Linked DNA regions of Homo sapiens. The protein of the gene in region 1 purifies or fractionates together with the protein of each later gene. This does not show direct contact. Each region holds a gene or a part of one and is shown in the gene's direction. Other genes may lie near its edges.

Evidence for each region. Proteins that work in one complex are often made in the same cells at the same time.
Region 2: the proteins of PCDH10 (region 1) and SLC30A7 purify together in Homo sapiens (affinity purification with mass spectrometry; one large-scale study listed by BioGRID and IntAct). This does not show direct contact.
Region 3: the proteins of PCDH10 (region 1) and SHMT1 purify together in Homo sapiens (co-immunoprecipitation; one large-scale study listed by IntAct). This does not show direct contact.
Region 4: the proteins of PCDH10 (region 1) and ARL17A purify together in Homo sapiens (affinity purification with mass spectrometry, with the first as the bait; one large-scale study listed by BioGRID). This does not show direct contact.

Annotation. Positions count from the first base shown.
Region 1 is NC_000004.12:133,186,569-133,191,907, forward strand, and holds part of PCDH10 (protocadherin-10 isoform 1 precursor), read left to right. Parts: intron 1-3,572; coding exon 3,573-3,592; 3' UTR 3,593-5,339.
Region 2 is NC_000001.11:100,906,090-100,910,508, forward strand, and holds part of SLC30A7 (zinc transporter 7), read left to right. Parts: intron 1-762; coding exon 763-876; intron 877-4,419. UniProt on the Homo sapiens protein: Zinc ion transporter mediating zinc entry from the cytosol into the lumen of organelles along the secretory pathway.
Region 3 is NC_000017.11:18,349,132-18,353,550, reverse strand, and holds part of SHMT1 (serine hydroxymethyltransferase, cytosolic), read left to right. Parts: intron 1-4,419. UniProt on the Homo sapiens protein: Interconversion of serine and glycine.
Region 4 is NC_000017.11:46,575,973-46,581,120, reverse strand, and holds the start of ARL17A (ADP-ribosylation factor-like 17-like), read left to right. Parts: upstream 1-1,429; 5' UTR 1,430-1,520; intron 1,521-4,781; 5' UTR 4,782-4,798; coding exon 4,799-4,946; intron 4,947-5,148.

The DNA of each region.
Region 1 (5,339 bases):
AATATATAGCCATGTTACTTAACACTGGAATAATTGTCCTGGTACTGGCTCTAAAATGTCATCAATTAATATTTTTTTTGTGGGGAGGGTCAGATAATATTTGCTTGCTACTTGTCCAACATTAGGCCATACAACCCTAAAAGAATAATAGGTTTTGTTTGTTTTTTGAGGCAGAGCCTTGCTCTGTCTCCTAGGCTGGAGTGCAGTGGCAAGATCTCAGTTCATTGCAACCTCCACTTCATAGATTCAAGCAATTCTTGTTCCTCAGCCTCCGAGGTAGCTGGGATTACAGGCCTGTGCCACTAAACCCTGCTAACTTTTGTATTTCTAGTAGAGATGGTCTTTTGACATGTTTGTCAGGCTGGTCTCAAACTCCTGGGCTCAAGTGATCCGCTCGCCTCAACCTCCCAAATTGTTGGAACTACAGGCCTGAGCCACCGTGCCCAGCCAAGAATAATAGTTATTCAGTGTTTAAACTCAACCCGTAGAAGGTTTGAAATAAAGCGGATGTGACTAAAACTTTAGTAATAGTATAAACTATTTCTAGGTTGGCAGGATTTTTGGCTCCTCTGTATCCTTGGGCTCCTTGTCTGTGGATTCAATCAACTGTGGATTAAAAATATTTGGAAAAAAGTCCCACAAAGTTTCAAAAAGCAAAACTTGAATTTGCCATGCACAGAGTACTGCCTTGAATTTATGTGAATGAAGTGATGTGCCTGGTGTTAGGCATTATATTAGATGTTGTAAGTAACCTGAAGATAATTTAACATATTTAGGAGGACATGCATAGGATATATGCATACACTACAGGCCATAAGGGACTTGAGCATCCTTCGATTTTGGGGGCAACCTGGAAACAGGCCCTCACAGACACTGAGGGATAACTCTTCATAAATGTAAGATTAGCTTCTTCTAACATGGAGGAAATCTTCCTTCCTCAATCTAATTAATTCTGACCTTCGGAACTTAGATCAGATCTAAGTTCAGATCTTATATTTGTCCTATCCAAATCTGCATTACTGAATTAACACATAGGTGGGAGGAAGTAAATTTAATAATAGGTGATTATATTATTCAGACAACAAGTACAATAGGTGAACTTTAAAAAAGAAAACACGTAACTCTAAGCAGCAATTAAAAGATGTCTTTTAAGTTTATGTTTATATTTAAGATATTGAGTATAATGTGTGCTAAGCTTCTGTGTTCTTAAAACTGTGAACCATTTTAATAATTTCTTTTATTAAAAAGAAACAATTTCTGTTTGTATCCTAACTAAATCAAGTGAACACATAATATTTATGTTAATGGCCTTTAAGCCATAAGAACTAGAAATGATATTTTTATTACTCTAAACATATGCTATGTTGACTACTTTCTGAATTTATACTAAAACATAGTTTTTCAGTATATTAGTTTTTTGACATAATGAATTAGTTATAGGTTGACTATAGGTCACTCCTGAGTTTCTTTTGTTCTTGAACTAAGAAAAGAATGTTTCCTCTAAATCAGCATTTTCTGATTTTTACTATTAACAGGAAAGGCCCCAACCCAGCTTATTTTGAAAGGAGTAATATTATTTGTCGGTGACAATATTTTCCTGGGTTGTCCAGAAAGCACAAAATCTTTTGTAATTAATAATAGTGTTTCTTTTCACTCACCAGTGGGTCCAGTTTAGACAACAAATTATTTGGTGACCGTAATGATTTGCTCTGATTTGTTTTATAAACTTGGACTTCTAAGGTTTCACTATTCTAATTTATTGTATAATTTTCAATTCTGATTGGTGTAAACAAATTTGTTTGAATTATTTCACATATAAGTTTCTCATGAAACAGTTTGAACTCAAGGACACAGAAAAATAGGATTTCATTCTATTAAAATAATAATTCCGTTTACTTGTAGAATATTCTCTGGAATATTATGACCTGGTTATAATGACTACCATATATTGTATCGAATTCATTTTATTCTTCTGGATATCATACATTACAAAATATGTTCTGATTACTTTCAATACTAGTTATTATACTACACAATACATGTAGATACTTATTTTCACTTTCATTTCTGTTGATGATGGTGCCTGACTGCTATGGGTTTTTTTTTTTTTTTTTTTTTTTTTGAGATGGAGTTTCGCTCTTGTCTCACAGGCTGGAGTGCAATGGCATGATCTCAGCTCACTGCAACCTCTGCCTCCTGGGTTCAAGCAATTCTTCTGCCTCAGCCTCCCAAGTAGCTGGGATTATAGGCGCCCACCACCATGCCAGGCTAATATTTTGTACTTTTAGTAGAGACAGGTATTCACCATGTTGGCCAGGCTGGTTTCAAACTCCTGACCTCAGGTGACCCACCCAACTCGGACTTCCAAATTGCTGGGATTACAGACGAGAGCCACCACATCCGGCCGACTGCTATGGTTTTGATTGATGTGCCTGCTAAATGGTGAACTAGTAAAGAACTGTTTCATGGTCAGAAACTGAGCTTTTGAGGAAAAATAAATTAGGATAAATAGATAATTAGATAGTCTTGAAATGAGTTGAAATACCAGAGAATAAGGTTGAGAAGATCAACATGTTCTTATCTTTGTTTAAAAAAAGCAACCATTTATGAGATTAAAATAATTGTTTTGCTATTTAATGTACTTTGTAACTTTTAATGAGATATGTGAAAATTTAATCTAAATTCAACTAGCTTTATTTTCAACACATTTTTGTTATATGTCTGTTATGTGCCATATACTGATAGATATGATGCAACTTCTGCTCTCATTGTGCTTATGGTCAAATATTACAAAGTTTATGGATAAGGGAAGAAATATTATTTATCATTACAAATAAACAAAATACTTAAAATTATGAAATCTGGGCAATCAAATCTGGGCATTCTGCTTTGTAATTTAATATATTTTATACAACTAGAGCAAATTTGATAATATCTTTCTCCCCTTTGCCTTTATTAATTCCTTTATGAGAAAATGGATTCTCATAGTAAGAATACTTTAAAAAAATGTATGGGCCATAAAAATACTTGGTTTTAAAATTTTATAAATGAGATTAAATAAACCTAGAAAATGTGAGTCATCTTTAAATTATTTAACTACATAAACACTTTCTGGTACAGTTTTCCATAATAAATATTGGTTTAATATGTATAATTTATAGTTTATGAAATTAAATATAAAACAAGTTATTTATAGATTTTGCTAGAAACTTTTTCTAGAAATGTAAGGGCCACACATTTTTTTCTATACTCTGTGCATAAATAGTGAAGTGTAGGGATTGTTTTATGTAGATAACTTTAAAAAGTTAATCTTCACAAATTTCATCTTTGGTATATAAAATGTACATTTCCCATGCAAAACTAATTTATAAGAATATCAAAATTATCATTCTCAGAAAACCAAACAACAGAATGGCTGTGACTACTAGCAGTGAAAAAGTTTGACACTACATGTGTTTGGTATGAGGGTACAACTAGTTTCTAACTGTATTCTTTCTTTTACAATAATGTGTAATTCTAAACTCCAAAAGTCAACCTCTTTTTCTTAGAGTATTTTTCTTTCTTTTTCACAGCACGGAAAAGGATATGCTAGTCAATTCTACAGGACTTACCTGAAGCAGCATGATTTGCACAAAGTCGACCAACAAAAGCATCAACTTTTCAACTTCATTATCTTGGCCATCCAGTTAGTCATGTGTAACTGAGTATTAGATTTCGGATGGAGTCATCATGGCCAATTATAGGACCTAATTGCTCTCAGCAGGCCTGAGAAATGAGTTGAAATGTGCAGAACTGTAGAAACTTTAGAGGCAACAGATTTTGCCTCCCCGATCAGTGTGTGCCTGTTTACAGCACTATCTATCTTTCTCTCTCCAAATGTCACTGAGCCCTTTAGATGTTTATATTCACCACGAGAAGCCAGTCATAAAGATAAAGGAAATTTGTGCATTATAAATGCAATATCACTGTTTTAAACTTGACTGTTTTATATTATTTTTGTGTGATCAAGTGTTCCGCAAGCTATTCCAACTTTACAAGAGAAATTGTGATTATGTTCTTTTCACCTGTGGGTTATAAAAAATGTTGTATTCTGAAGACCCACAAAATATCAAAGACATTCTGTAGTTTATACACCGTGTTGCAAAGTGTTTACTGTACTATTTCAAAGCTTCTAAATAAATATAAAATATATATATTATATTATATAATTTTCCTAAAATGTGGTACAACTCAGTTGGTTTTTAAATGGATGCATACAGTCCACATCATACAATAAAATAAAAGGTAATTCAGGGTCCCAAAGACAAACTTACTAAGAAAAAATCATTAATAGTTTTCTCCCAATTTCCATATCTTACTCAACCGTGTTTTTCCTTGTTTAAAAGAAAATGATGCTCTAAGCTACAAAATTTTGTCAAAAACTCATATTGAATTTTCAATGCCAAAGATGTAGCTATTGATGTTATCAGACAGAGCACTGACTATGTACTATCAAACTATCTAACAATCTGCATAAGTCTGATTCTATTTCTATGACTTTGAATTTAGAATCACTTAAAGCTTTTATAAAGAATCGATAAATTCACCTGTATTTGTTGTTAGAAAAAAACTGGGTGTCTGTACATTTTGTGGTGTAAAATATGTAATTGAAGATTACTATTTTAAGAAGTCATCAGTCATATCACTCACACAGAATTTTATTTTACATAGTTTTGTGACTTAATTACACATGAATATAAAATCTATAATTCTATATGAATATATAGAGATATAGAAACATCTGAACTGGTAAAGAATAACTATAAAATATGAAAGCTCTAAATTTAAAATAAATTTAGAGATAGAATCATGGTACATTATTGTTTCAGTATTCCATGTGAAAATTTTATAGCTTAAATGTAGTCAGTGTTTGATTAATGAAAAAATTCTTCATGAGTCAGCCTTCAAAAGTTAAGCTTGCCTTTTACTTTTATGTCAACAATATTAATTATTAAATTTAGTAAGACGCACTTTCCTTTCTTTTATATATTTTTTCTACTGTTGTGTATGCCTTGTTAGAACACATTCGAGAGAGGAAAAAAATCAGAGAATATAAGATAATCTTTCAAGCAAAAAACAGAATTGTCACAGCTCCCCTCGCCCTCTAAACTATGATATCAAAACATCATATCAAAGCTTCAACATTATATCAAAATGTTTGCCCAGTTCAAATTAGAAACCTGTTTTGAAATACTTTCCTTAATTTTTAACTGATCTTATATTCAATGACAGTTTGAGCTGCACTGTGTTATTAAAGAATAGACTAAAACTTAACATTTGACAAATGTTCTTCATCAAAT
Region 2 (4,419 bases), on another chromosome or scaffold:
TGTGTTTTGTTATTGCTGATTTCCACAAATCACAGTCTTTGAATTTTTCAGTGGTTCCTACTACTTTGTGATTAGTATTGGATTTGGAGTACTGCAGGATTTTTTCAGGGTTCTTGCTCCACTCTCAGCTTTTAGCAAGTTCTGCACATATCTCTTTGTGCTCTCACTGGTAGTTTGCTGTTCCTTATACTTTATTCAAGACTTGGTGGGGAGGGTGGGACTAGGTTCTCTTGTTGTATCCCTAGTCAGGCAAGCCTGTGCACCTCAGTGTCAGGGTGAGTATTAATGATCTTGCCGCTCTCCCTCTCTCCCAGCCTGTCCCCACTGTCCTCAGCCTGGTATCAAAAGGGTGGAGCAGGATACTCAACAAAAGCAGACCTTTGCTTTGTAAGATCCTGGGTGCAAGCAGGTATCAGCCTCGTCCCAGTAGTAGATGGCTTTTTTTTTCCTACCTCTCTTTCAGTGGCAGCTGACCTTTGCAAGTGACCAAGGAGTGGTCACATTCCTACCCCTCACCCAGCAGCAGATGGTTTTTGTTTCTACCTCTCTCGCAGCAGCTGGGCTTTTCCTTGTGCAGGAGGTACGAGGGTTTACTTTTTAGATATTTAAAACTTATCCTCAAAGCTATCTATATAGCATATTTAAATTGTTGTTTTAGATGGTTAATTCCTGATGAACAAAGGCTGAATCTTAGACTTTCAGAGAAAGATGCCTACTGTTTGGTTTTTATTATAATTTGTCAATGTGTTTGTTCTTTTCCAGCTTAGGCTTGATTTCCGACTCTTTTCACATGTTTTTCGATAGCACTGCCATTTTGGCTGGACTGGCAGCTTCTGTTATTTCAAAATGGAGAGATAATGATGCTTTCTCCTATGGGTAAGACTTTAAGAAAAAAAATCTTTTTATTGAAGTATAAGATATACACAAAAAAACACTAATCTTAAGCTCAGTGACTTGTTACCAATTGAACACAGGTGTAACTTTTGAATCTTTGAAGCCCCCACTCAGGCCTCTTCGAGTTCCTACCTCCCCAAGGGTAACCACTTTCATGACTTCATGGATGAGTTTTTGAATAGTATATAATTGGAATCTACAGTAATTTGTTGAGATTGTTACCATATAGAGGAATTTCTCAACTTTTTTTTGAAGAAGAAAGTTTTAGTATATGAAAATAGGATTTTTTTTTGCTTTTGCTTTTTTCTTTTTGAATGGATACTTTGCTGTTGATTTATTTAAAATCATTTTCTAATATGGTTTTATATTATGTTCTTTAGCTCTGCTTTTATGTAACAGTTCTTATATGCTTGCCGAGTTGGACAATTAATCAAATATTTGTAGAGCATCTGTATGCTGAAGGGACTACATTGGATCATCTTAGAGGCATAATTTGATTTCTGCCACCTCTGATTGGAGGAAGCAGTGGATTTTTCATTATTTGATTACACTGCCTGAGTGTTTCCTTTTTTGAGTTCATAGAATATTTTGCAGTATAGCTATATATATGTGTAAGCAGAGCTCAGGATGCATACTCTGTTTCTTTCTCTTCCCCACCCCTTTGTCTTTCCTATTCCCTCTCTCTTCTGCTTTCTTACTAATTCTTCCCCTCTGTCCTTTTCCTCCTCTTCTCTTCATTTCCCCTGTGAGTGCTCTTTTACATTCTCTTCCTTCTTCATCTGTCTCTCATATTTTCTGTCTCTCACTCTTGTTCCCTTCCTCAGCCTCTTACTCTCTCTTATCTTCTCCTGAACTCCCTTTTCCTTCTCTTGTCTTTGCTTCTTGTCGCTTGGGCTTGTGCTCATGCTCTTTTTTCCTCTCTCTTCCTTCTTCTGTCCCCCTATACCTTTCCTGTCTTATTCTTTGTTTTCTCCTGCTCTTTTCCTTTACCTTTTAACCCTTTATCTGTCAGGCTCAATCTCTCCTCCTCCTCTTCTCTTAACTTCTTTAGCTCTATTTCTTTTTTGTCTCCCTTTCCAAGTCTCTCTTTCCTTCCTTCACTGATTCTCCTTCCCTGAGCTCTCCCTTTCCGGTGCAGTTTCTCTCACTCTCTCCCTGTCCTTTTTACAGCCATCTTCTTTCATGTACTGTCTCTTAGGCCTCTTGTTATGTCTTTTACTCTCTGTCCTTAACTGCTCCCCCTTTCTCCCTGGCTTGGCTTCTTTCTTTAGCAGGCACACACTCTTTCTTTCACATGCTCTTGTTCTGTTTAGATATTTATTGAGGGTCCATATGAGTCAAATACTTTTCTAGTTCTAATGATGTAAAAATGATCTAATGATGTAAAAACATGCCTCCTGCCTTGCCGGAACTTGTCTCTTGGGCAAACAGTTCTGTAAAAATACAATAATAGCTATATATTGTGACAGTTGCCAAAAAGGAGATGTGGAGTTCTGTGGCAGAACTTGCTGATTTTAGTTATAAGCAAGGGATATGGTTATTTTTGAAATTATAAAAAGTGAGCCAAAAAATACTCATTGTACATTTTATAGTATAGAGCAGTAGATCCTATATATCTATAAATTCAAACAGCTTGACAGCTCAGATAAGAACGCTTTTTATGGCATGATATTGGTGATATGCAAATAATTTAAACAGTAGCTACTAAAAGATTCTTAAGTATATTTTAGATTATTAAAGAAAGATTATATCCAAAGTTATAATTTTTGTTGGAAAATTAGTAATTTATTTATATTATATATCAGAAATCTAATTAGAATAGCTTATTCTACAATCTTTCTGAATAAACAGTAGCTGACTATTGAAAATTCTCAGTTCTTTAACGCTTAGATTTTCTATTGTTTCCAATTTAGAATGTATTGTCTCCTGCTCTAAAATGGTTTTTAGAAATAGCTTTGAATACCTTCAGTACCATAGCAGATTTTAATGTTCAGCTTTAGCTAGTTGATGTAAGAGAATAATATTCTTTCCACCTTTAATTTAATCCTCTCCTCTCTTTATGTGTGTGTGTGTGTGTGTGTGTGTGTGTTTTCTTTTGGGAAAGATTAAAGAATAAAAGCTGGTACAATATTTAACACTATGAATAATTGGTATAGTAATAAGTAGCTTCATTTGTAAACTACTGGTGTCAGTGAATCAAAATGACACTGATTAATTCATGTTAAGCATAGGGTTGAATTCTCATAACCTCCCACCCCAATTCAGGATGACTGCTGTAGCTGACTGACTCTGCAATAGAAGAAAGAGTTGGGGAATATGAGAGCAAGCAAGGACTTTTAAGTATTTCTTTATATAAAAGTCATCTTTGTGTCTTGCCACACTCTTATTTTTTAAAGAGCAAAGACAGCTTAAAAGTAATATACATCCAGTAGGTAGATAGATACATACATACATGCGTATATACATATGTACCTATACTTAAATCTTTTCTATTTTTCTTCCTGGCTCAAGAATCTAAACACTAGCCATACTTAATTAGGCAACAGCACATTCATGAATTACATGTTCTAATTCTAAGACCTACTCAATCTGTTAAGTAAACACAGATATTTGTAAAGGCAAATGTGTTTAGTTTTCATGTGTTTTTGTTTTGAGCCCACAACCAAGTTTAACAAATATATCTTAAACTCAAGCTAATTAAATCACTCCAACATTTTATCTGAACTTAGATAGCACACCTACTAAGCTAGGAATTAGAAACAAAAAGATGCCTGAAAAACATTCTTGCCTTTGATCTTGAAATCTGGTAGAAGTCAAGCACAAAAGGTTTTCAGTCAAGCATTAGTTATGGGACTACAAGGGTAGATTAAAAGAAAATACTTTTTACTTTTGGATAGTAACCCTGCTGATTTATTAGATAAATTCCTAAGTGTAGGCTGTGGAATGCTGGTTGCAAATTATTTGAATTTAATGAACTTTTCTCCAGGAAAAAAAAATATGTTTTGACAAGTAATACGTTATTTGGATGTGTTAGAAGATAGAAATATGCATTATTTCTGGCATAGAAATACATACTATGTTGGAATGCACTTGACAGGACAAACTCCAACATAACTTGATAGAGTACATTTTCAAGAATTCTCTTTAAAAATATTTTTACAGTAAAAATCGTTATTACCTAGAAGTTAACATAGAAACCTAGGAAAAGCACGAGTTTTGATGCTCTCATTATATTGTTTAAGGACCAGAGTGGTTAATTGCTGTTAGCACCCTTTGAATGATGTTTGAACATGTAAAAATGCTAAGTTAAAGTTGTTTCTGATGACTTTAACTAAGCCAAATATACGATACAGAAAAATAAAATCTTTCCCCAATGCTTCACACAGGTAGGAAGCAGAAAGCTTCAGAACTCAATGGAACAAAAGACAGGTATTTTAAAAATAGTTTAATTAGAATTATGTGAAGCTAAAATTGATTCTAAAAATAGGTAATTGAAAGTTTATGCTAGATTTATTAATCTTAGAA
Region 3 (4,419 bases), on another chromosome or scaffold:
TTCCACGCCTGCTCTCTGACAGAACTCTTTTATTCCCAGCATGTGATAACACTGAAGAGCTCAGCGCAGGTGTACTCAGGGGCACATTTCACAGTTCTTTGGGGGCTTTCTAGAAAAACAGGCCAGTTTGTAAGGAGTATTGAGCCACTGGACTGGTGTGTGGCCTCTGTCTAGAAAAGGTCAGTGTCATCTGAGGGATGCTGCAGAAGGTGGCCGTTGCCATGTGAGTCATCGAGTCTGTATTGGGAATGGTGTGGAAGTGGAGGCTGAATCTGGATTACTGAAAACCGTTTCTGCATTATAAATGTTGGATTTACACATGCAGTGGCTTTCAGTTGACTCTTTCACCCTCAGAATTACAGTGTTATATTCGTTTTTGTTTTTTACAGTCATCATCAGGCAAAGAAAATAAATTACAGAATTAGACATGGCTTTTGCAAATGTGTGCATTTTTGTCCCAAAGGAAACAGAAAGGTCACCCTTGGAGAAGGAATTGCCATTCTGTCCTGAGATGCCCCTGAAGCTCTATGTAGAAGACTGAGAATCAAGTTGAAGGCATTGTCTTTCTCCTATTGTGAATAACTAACTTTTGCATTGTGCCTTAAAGAATTCACCAGGTGTTTTCTTTATTTCTCTCTCTCCTTTCTTTTTCTTTTTCCTTCCTTTCTTTCTTCTTTCAGGCTAAGGTATTTTGTTAACACCAGGTGTTTTCTTTTTTTTTTTCTTCTTTTTTGAGACATGGTCTTTCTCTCACCCAGGCTGAAGTGCAGTGGTGTGATCAAGGTTCACTGCAGCCTTGGTCTCCTGGACCCAAGCCATCCTCCCACCTCAGCCTACTGAGTCGCTGGGACTACAGGCACACACCACCACACCCAGCTAATTTTTTGTAGAGACAGAGTTTCACCCAGGCTGTTGTTGCCCAGGCTGATCTCCATCTCCTGAGCTCAAGCAATCCACCTGCCTTGGCCTCCCAGAGTGCTTAGGATTAGAGCTGTGAGCCACTGCACCCGGTCCACACCAGGTGTTTTCAAAACTAATATTTCATTCGATTCTCACAGCAATGTATCGAGCAAGGGGTGATGTTTTCTACATTTTTAAGAAGGGGGACCGGGCGCGGTGGCTCACGCCTGTAATCCCAGCACTTTGGGAGGCCCAGGCGGGCGGATCACGAGGTCAGGAGATCGAGACCATCCTGGCTAACACGGTGAAACCCCGTCTCTACTAAAAATACAAAAAATTAGCCTGGCAAGGTGGCGGGCGCCTGTAGTCCCAGCTACGTGGGAGGCTGATGCAGGAGAATGGCGTGAACCCCAGGGGGCAGAGCTTGCAGTGAGCCGAGATCGCGCCACTGCACTCTAGCCTGGGCGATAGCGAGCCTCCGTCTCAAAAAAAAAAAAAAAGAAGGGGACTGAGTGTAGTGGCTCACCCCTGTAATCCCAGTGCTTTAAGAGGCCAGGGCAGAGGATCATTTGAGGCTAGGAATTTGAGACCAGCCTGGGCAATATAGTGAGACGCTGTCTCCAAAACAAAATTTAAAAATTAGCCGGACATGGTGGCATGCGCCTGTAGTCTCAGCTACTCAAGAAACTGAGGTGGAGTATCGCTTGAGCCCAGGAGATCAAAGGCTGCAGTGAGCTATGATTTTGCCAATGCACTCCAGCTGGGGTGACAGAATGAGACCCTGTTTCTAAATTTAAAAAAAACCCCGAAAAACCACAACTTAAATAGAAGTGTAATTACATCGTTTATTCATGTTAAAGGGCTTGTTGTTTTTTTTTTACACGGAGTATCGCTCTGTCACGAGGCTGGAGTGCAGTGGCACAATCTCGGCTCACTGCAGCCTCCACCTCCCAGGTTCAAGCGATTCTCTTGCCTCAGCCTCCCAAGTAGCTGGGACTATAGGCACGTGCCACCACACCCGACTAACTTATTTATTTATTTATTTTTTGTATTTTTAGTAGAGACGGGGTTTCACCGTGTTAGCCAGGCTGGTCTCGATCTCCTGACCTCATGATCCGCCTGCCTCTGTCTCCCAAAGTGTTGGGATTACAGGCGTGAGCCACTGTGCCCAGCCAATTAAAGGGCTCTTTTAAAAGGTAATTATTGGCTGGGCGTGGTGGCTCATGCCTGTAATTCCAGCACTTTAGGAGGCCGAGCTGGGTGGATCATGAGGTCAGGAGATCGAGACCATCCTGGCTAATACGGTGTAAACCCCATCTCTACTAAAAAAAAATACAAAAAAATTAGCCAGGTGTGGTGGCTGGCGCCTGTAGTCCCAGCTACTCGGGAGGCTAAGGCAGGAGAATGGTGTGAACCTGGGAGGTGGAGTTTGCAGTGAGCCGAGATCGCGCCACTGCACTCCAGCCTGGGTGACAGTGAGATTCCGTCTCAAAAAAATAATAAAAATAAAAATAAAAGGTAATTATTACATGTTTTCATTATATTTTGTTAATATAATTTAATATTAATCTACCTTTGGAACATTATTTAAAATCAAAGGCAATATTTGAAAACAATAGGCAAGGCGTGGTGGTTCACACCTGTAATCCCAGCACTTCGGGAGGCTGAGGCAGGTGGATCACCTGAGGTCAGGAGTTTGAGACCAGCCTGGCCAACATGTCGAAACCCTGTCTCTACTAAAAATACAAAAATTAGCTGGGTGTGGAGGTGCGTGCCTGTAATCCCAGCTACTCTGGAGGCTGAGGTAGGAGAATCGCTTGAACTTGGGAGGCGGAGGTTGCAGTGAGCCGAGATCGCACCACTGCACTCCAGCCTGGGAGACAGAGCAAGACTCCATCTCAGAAAAAAAAAAAAGAAAACAGTGTTGACCTAACGTTAATGACTTTGCTTGATACAAACCTAAAAACAAAGTTCTGGGTTTAAAACAAAATGTTATGTATGTGTGAATAAATGAATGACAAGGTCTCGTTGTCTTGCCCAGGCTGGAGTGCAGTGGTGCAATCTCGTCTCATTGCAGCCTCAAACTCTTGGGCTCAAGCAATCCTCCTGCCTCAGCCTCTCTGTAGCTAGGACCACAGGTGCGTGCCACCACACCAGGCTAATTTTTAATAGACATGAGGTCTTGCTGTGTTGCCCAGGCTGGTTTCAAACTCCTGGCCTCAAGCAGTCTTCCCACCTGAGCCTTCCATATTACTAGGATTACAGGTGTGAACAACCACATCTGGCCTATTTATTTTTTATTTATTTATTTATTTATTTTGAGACGGAGTCTCACTCTGTCGCCCAGGCTGGAGCGCAGTGGCACGATCTCGGCTCACTACAAGCTCCACCTCCCGGGTTCACGCCATTCTCCTGCCTCAGCCTCCCGAGTAGCTGGGACTACAGGCGCCCGCCACCACACCCGGCTAATTTTTTATATATTTTTTAGTAGAGACGGGGTTTCACCATGTTAGCCAGGATGGTCTCCATCTCCTGACCTCGTGATCCGCCCGCCTCGGCCTCCGAAAGTGCTGGGATTACAGGCGTGAGCCACCGTGCCCGGCCTATTTTTTATCTATTTTTATTTTTTTGAGACAGAGTTTTGCTCTTGTTGCCCAGGGTGGAGTGCAATGGTACAATCTCGGCTCACCGCAACCTCCGCCTCCCAGGTTCAAGCAATTCTCCTACCTCAGCCTCCTCAATAGCTGGGAATACAGGCGTGCACCACCACGCCTGGCTAATTTTGTATTTTTAGGAGAGATGGGGTTTCTCCATGTTGGTCAGGCTGGTCTCGAACTCCTGACGTCAGGTGATCCGCCCACTTCGGCCTCCCAAAGTGCTGAGATTACAAATGTGAGCCACTACGCCGGGCCCGGCCTATTTATTTTTTTTAGAGTTAGGGTCTCACTGTGTTGCTCCAGCTGTAGTGCAGTGGTACAATCAAAGCTCACTGCAATCTCCAACTCCTGGGTTCAAGTGATCCTCCCACCTCAGCCTTCCAAGTAACTAGGACTATAGGTGCAAGCCACTATACTTAGCTCATTTGTAAAATTTTTTGTAGAGCTGAGATCTCACTATGTTGCCTAGCTGGTCTTGAACTCCTGGCCTCAAGCAGTTCTCCCACCTCAGCCTTCCAAATCTCTGAGATTACAGACATGAGCCACTGCATGTAGTTACTTTAAATTTTTTTTTGAGACTGAGTCTTGCTGGGATGCCCAGGCTGGAGTGCAGTGGGGCGATCTCGGCTCACTGCAACCTCCACCTCCTGGGTTCAAGAGATTCTCCTGCCTCAGCCTCCCGAGCAGCTGGGATTACAGTCACCCGCCACCACTCCCGGCTAATTTTTGTATTTTTAGTAGAGACGGGGTTTCACCATATTGGCCAGGCTGGTCTGGAACTCCTGACCTCAGGTGATCTGCCCACCTCGGCCTCCCAAAGTGCTGGGATTACAGGCGTGAGCCACCATGCCCAGCCTAAGCT
Region 4 (5,148 bases), on another chromosome or scaffold:
TTTCTTTTTTTTTGAGACAGGGTCTTGCTTTATCGTCTAGGCTGGAGTGCAGTGGCACGATGTTGGCTCACTGCAACCTCTGCCTCTCAGGTTCAGGCAATTCTCCTGTCTCAGCCTCCCAAGTAGCTGGGATTACAGGCGTGTGCCACCACGCCCGGCTAATTTTATATTTTTAGTAGAGATGGGGTTTCTCCATGTTGGTCAGGCTGGTCTCGAACTCCCAACCTCAGGTGATCTGCTCGCCTCGGCCTCCCAGTGTGCTGGAATTACAGGTGTGAGCCACCACGTCTGGCCAGGGATAATAGTTTGTAATTCACTGGGCGTTACGGTCCTGCAGGTAACATTGTTTTTCTTATTTATTTATTTATTTATTTAGTCAATTCTAGCAGTATCTTCTAACTTTTTTTGTTCGTGTTTTTTGAGACAGGGTCTCGCTTTGTCACCCAGGCTGGAGTGCAGTGGCGTGATCACGGCTCTCTGCAGCCTCTACCTCCTGGGCTCAAGTGATCCTCCTGCCTCAGCCTCCCGAGTAGCTGGGACTACAGCCGCTACCATGCCCGGCTAATTTTAAATTTGTTTTTTTTTGCAGAGATGGGGTTTTGCCATGTTGCTCAGGCTGGTCTCGAACTCCTAGCTCAAAGCCTTGGCCTTCCAGGCGTGAGCTACCGCGCCGGGCCTGCTGAAGTTCTTGATATAGTTTCTGGCACATAGTATATGTTTAATAGATGTTTGTTGTTCTGATGATTTCAGTTATGTACCATTTACAGGCGTTTGTAACCTTTTTAGCTAACAAGTTGGGCATTTAGGGAACTGACTATAGAAAGCATTTCTCGGAAACGAGGACTGGTTCTGCGACGTCTTAACGAGGTGCGGGTGGCCAGTATTTTCCCCAACTTGAAAATCTGTGTAGAGGTGGGAGGGCAGTCTAGCCTCAGGCGGAATAGGAAAACTTCCTTATGCCTAATTTCAGTGTCAGTGTGTGGTATTTCCTACGCGGAACACCGCCCCAAACTAATGTCTACGTTTAACTCAACCGCGGTAAATTTCCTTCCATGGCACTATTAACTTGGCCCGGCCCACATGTCCCCTCCCGGTTGGTGTGAACGCTCCGAGGTTAGCTCAAACCTCGGCGATTTTCCCAGCTGATTGGCCGTGCAAATAGACAATCCTTTTGCTTTTCTGATTGGTCGCACATGGCATCGGGGGTGGGGGACGTGGGCGTGTCTCGCCAGAATTCGTTTAACTGTGATTTGAAGATGAACATGGTATTGCCAGAGCTTCATGGCGTCGCCTACGGCGCTCCCTCCCTCCCAGGCCCTTACTCTTCTTTGCGTTGGCCAGATATGTCGTCACTCACAAAACTTCGAGCTCATTGGTGCAAAAGCTCCAGGAGGCGGTGGGTGATTGGTTGGTTGCTGTTCCTGCCCCCACGCCTGTCGTGGTTTAGCTGAACTGAGCTGAAATCCTAAAGGCCGCGGAGTCGGCGGTGTTGTAGGTAGCGGTACCTTGAGTGGCAACAGGTGAGTCTCCGGCTGCAGGGATGGGGCGGCAGCACTCAAGACCTGGCTGGATCTCCACTTCGTCTGCGGGCCAGAAACTGGAGGGCGGCGGTGGCTTTCGGAAAGGGATTGGGCTCCGCTGTTCCTTCTTCGCCCTCTCTAGGGCCGGAGCAGCGAGGAACCGAAGGAGGCTTCATAGGTTCCACGCAGGGCCCTCTCTTTGCTCTTCCAGGGGCGCACAAGTTGAGAAGGAGCGGCCTGGCAGCCGGGGCAAAAAAGGGGCGTCTTTCCCCGGGAGCCGGGCGTGCCTGGCTGCCGCGCACGCTCACCTGGGCCACCACGCTTGTTCGCGCCCTTGACGTCGTGCCGACGTTTCTCCCTAATGCACTTTTGGCGCTTGGGGCTGGGAGACTGAGCGTGCCAAAAAGGCCCTGTAGTCGGAGCCATCTTACCTTAGAGGGGTCTCCAGCGGCGCAGGGGTGTCAGGACCACGGGCGCCTGGGGCACATGAGTAGCAATAAGAGGAAAGAGAAGGGAGAGGGAGGTCAAGGTGGTGTGTCTGTGCGGTTGGCAGGGGGAATTGGGACTAGCTGCCTCAAGGGGCATCTGAGCGGGAAGTACCTTCCCTCCCCCAGCATGTTCCTGAAAAGTCTCCTCATCTGTGAGATTTGTTTTTCGAAACAAAGAAAAGGAATCTCTAGTTTTGTCGCCCGGCAAGATTTTGAGTGCTGCAATGCACTGGACTTTTATAGACCTATAATGGACTTTCTTTGAATGATTAAAACATTTATCATTCTTTGGTCACTTACGCCACATTTGTGAACAGGATAAATTCTGTGCTCGCTTTCTCTCATCCTAGAAAGGAATGTTGTGTACTTGGGCGTAATCCATGATATTAAGCTACTGCTGGCCACTGTTGAATTTCAGCGGTGAGGCCTGTGGAATTTGGTTACCTCCGCTCTGTGGTTACCAGAGTCCGAATGAATGGGAGATTGGCTATCCTCCTTGTGTCTTCCTCCTCCCCTGCCCAGGAGTAAAGCTTTCTTTGGTTAGCAATTTAAAAAGAAAATAAATCACAGTCTCTGGAACAAGGATGTATGTCTTTTTCTTTTTGAATTTTTTTTTGTTTTATTATTTTTAAAAATAGAGGCAGGGTCTCGCTATGTTGCCCAGGCTGGTCTTGTACTCCTGGCCTAAAGCAATCCTCCCTTGTCTTCTGTTATCTCAGTAAGCAAAAACTAAAGTGACCCTCTTGCCTCAGCCTCCCAAAGTGCTGGAATTACAGGGGTAAGCCACCCTGCCTGGTCTGAAGATCTTTACAGACTTCCAAGAGCTTAGTTAGAGGTGTAGACCCAGCACTGCTTGTAAGTCTTTACTTAGAATGTCAAGCTCACATTTCAAGTAGGCTGATCTCAAAGAGACTGTAAATTTCTGTAAGTTAGTCTGACTTTACTATTGACTTACTTTATATAACCTACCATGATTTCTACTGAAAAATAAAATATTGAACATTTATGCTGTTAGAAGTCAATATAGTGATTACCTTTTATGGAGTAATGACTGGGAGGAGGCACAAGGAGAATTGGTCTGATAATCATTTTTTTTTTTTTTTTTTTTTGAGATGGAGTCTCACTCTGTTGCCCTGGGCTGGAGTTCAGTGGCCCAATCTTGGCTCACTTCAACCTCCACCTCCCAGGTTCAAGTGATTCTTGTGCCTTAGCCTTCTGAGTAGCTGGGACTGCATGTGTGTGCCACTACACCTAGCTAATTTTTGTATTTTTAGTAGAGACGGGGTTTCACCATTTTGGCCAGGCTGGTCTCGAACTCTTGACCTCAGGTGATCCACCCACCTTGGTCTCCCAAAGTGTTGGGATTACAGGCATGAGCCACTGTGCCCAGCCTGATAAATCATCTTTTCTTGATTTGGTTACATAGGTGTGTTTGGTTCATGAAAATGTATTGAACTTTACAGTTATCATGTATGTTTATATCTGTATGTAAATTATACTTAAATAAAAAGTTCTAAGAACTGGTTGAGAGTAAGGTGATAGTTACAGCAATAGAACACTGGATACTGGCTGGGCCTGGTAGCTCACGCCTGTAATCCCAGCACTTTGGGAGGCTGAGGTGGGAAGATCACTTGAGCCCAGGGGTTCGAGATTAGCCTGGGAAATATAGTGAGACCTCATTTCCACAAAAAATACAAAAATTAGCTGAGCGAGGTGGCGTATGCCTGTGGTCGCAGCTGCTCCAGAGGCTGAGGTGGGAGGATTGTTTGAGATGGGGAGGTTGAGGTTGCAGTGAGCCGTGATTGTGCCACTGCACTCCAGCCTGGGTGACAGAGCGAGACCCTGTCTCAAAACAAAACAAAAAACTCAAACGAAAACTGGATGCTGTGGTGCCTCCTCAACTCTGCCAAGTTATCTCTCTTGGCAGTGAAGCTTCCCAACGCTGAATTTCTTTGCCTCTGAAATTTCTTAGGTTATTTCCAAGGTGTCTGCTAGCCATAAGGAACTACTACGTTTCCAAGGGATATTGTTGTTTAACCTGTCTTAAAGACTTTGTTTTATATTGCATAAAATAAAAAGCTTCTCTGTTTCATAAATTCTCATTTCAGTAGAATTTAGAATGAGGTATAGTTGTATTTGTTGTATCATTGCTTCTGTACTTGTTTTTTAAAAAAAATTAATTAATTAATTAATTTTTTGAGACAGTCTTGCTCTGTTGCCCAGACTAGAGTGCAGTGGCGTGGTCCTGGCTTACTGCAACCTCTGCCTCCCCAGGTTCAAGTGATTCCTATGCCTTAGCATCCTGAGTAGCTGGTACTACAGGCGTGCACCACCGTGCCCAGCTAATTTTTGTGTTTTTAGTAGAGACGGGGTTTCACCATGTTGGCCAGGCTGGTCTTGAACCCATGACCTCAGGTGATCCACCCACCTTGGCCTCCCAAAGTGCTGGGATTACAGGCGTGAGCTACCGCACCTGGCCTTGTACTTCTGTACTAAATGACTAAAGGCTGCCACTGTCATAGCAGTGCTGAGGCTATGTTGCATATCCCTCTTGGATGCTGCAGTGGAAAATAGAATTTTCTGGTAAGGCATGGAAAGGTTTAGTTGAGTTTCCCTTTGAAGACAAGACTCACTACTCATTGGCCAAAGTGTACCTAAAATTGTTGAATTTTTCCTGGGAGCCATTTCTAATTGACACTTGTATTTTCTGCGTGTTGCTTCTATATCTCTGCAGAGAACAATTATTTGGCTTGCTTTTCTTGTCATGTTACAGAATTCGATTAAATTACAATGGGAAACATTTTTGAAAAGCTCTTTAAAAGTCTACTTGGGAAAAAAAAGATGCGGATTCTTATATTGAGTTTGGATACAGCTGGAAAAACCACCATCTTGTATAAATTGAAGCTGGGGGAGACTGTGCCTGCCGTCCCTACAGTAGGTAAGTTAATGAAAGACCTGTGGCAATTCCAGTTTACAATTTAGTATGTTATATATATTTTTTAGGTTCTGTTTCACCAGAGAAATATGTTTTATTTTTACATGCTTCTTATGTTATTGAATAATTCTTTTTAAAAATCTTGTCTACTCCATGAGCATACATTTTTAGAGGCCAAAAACCAGGTTATATATATCCTTTTCTT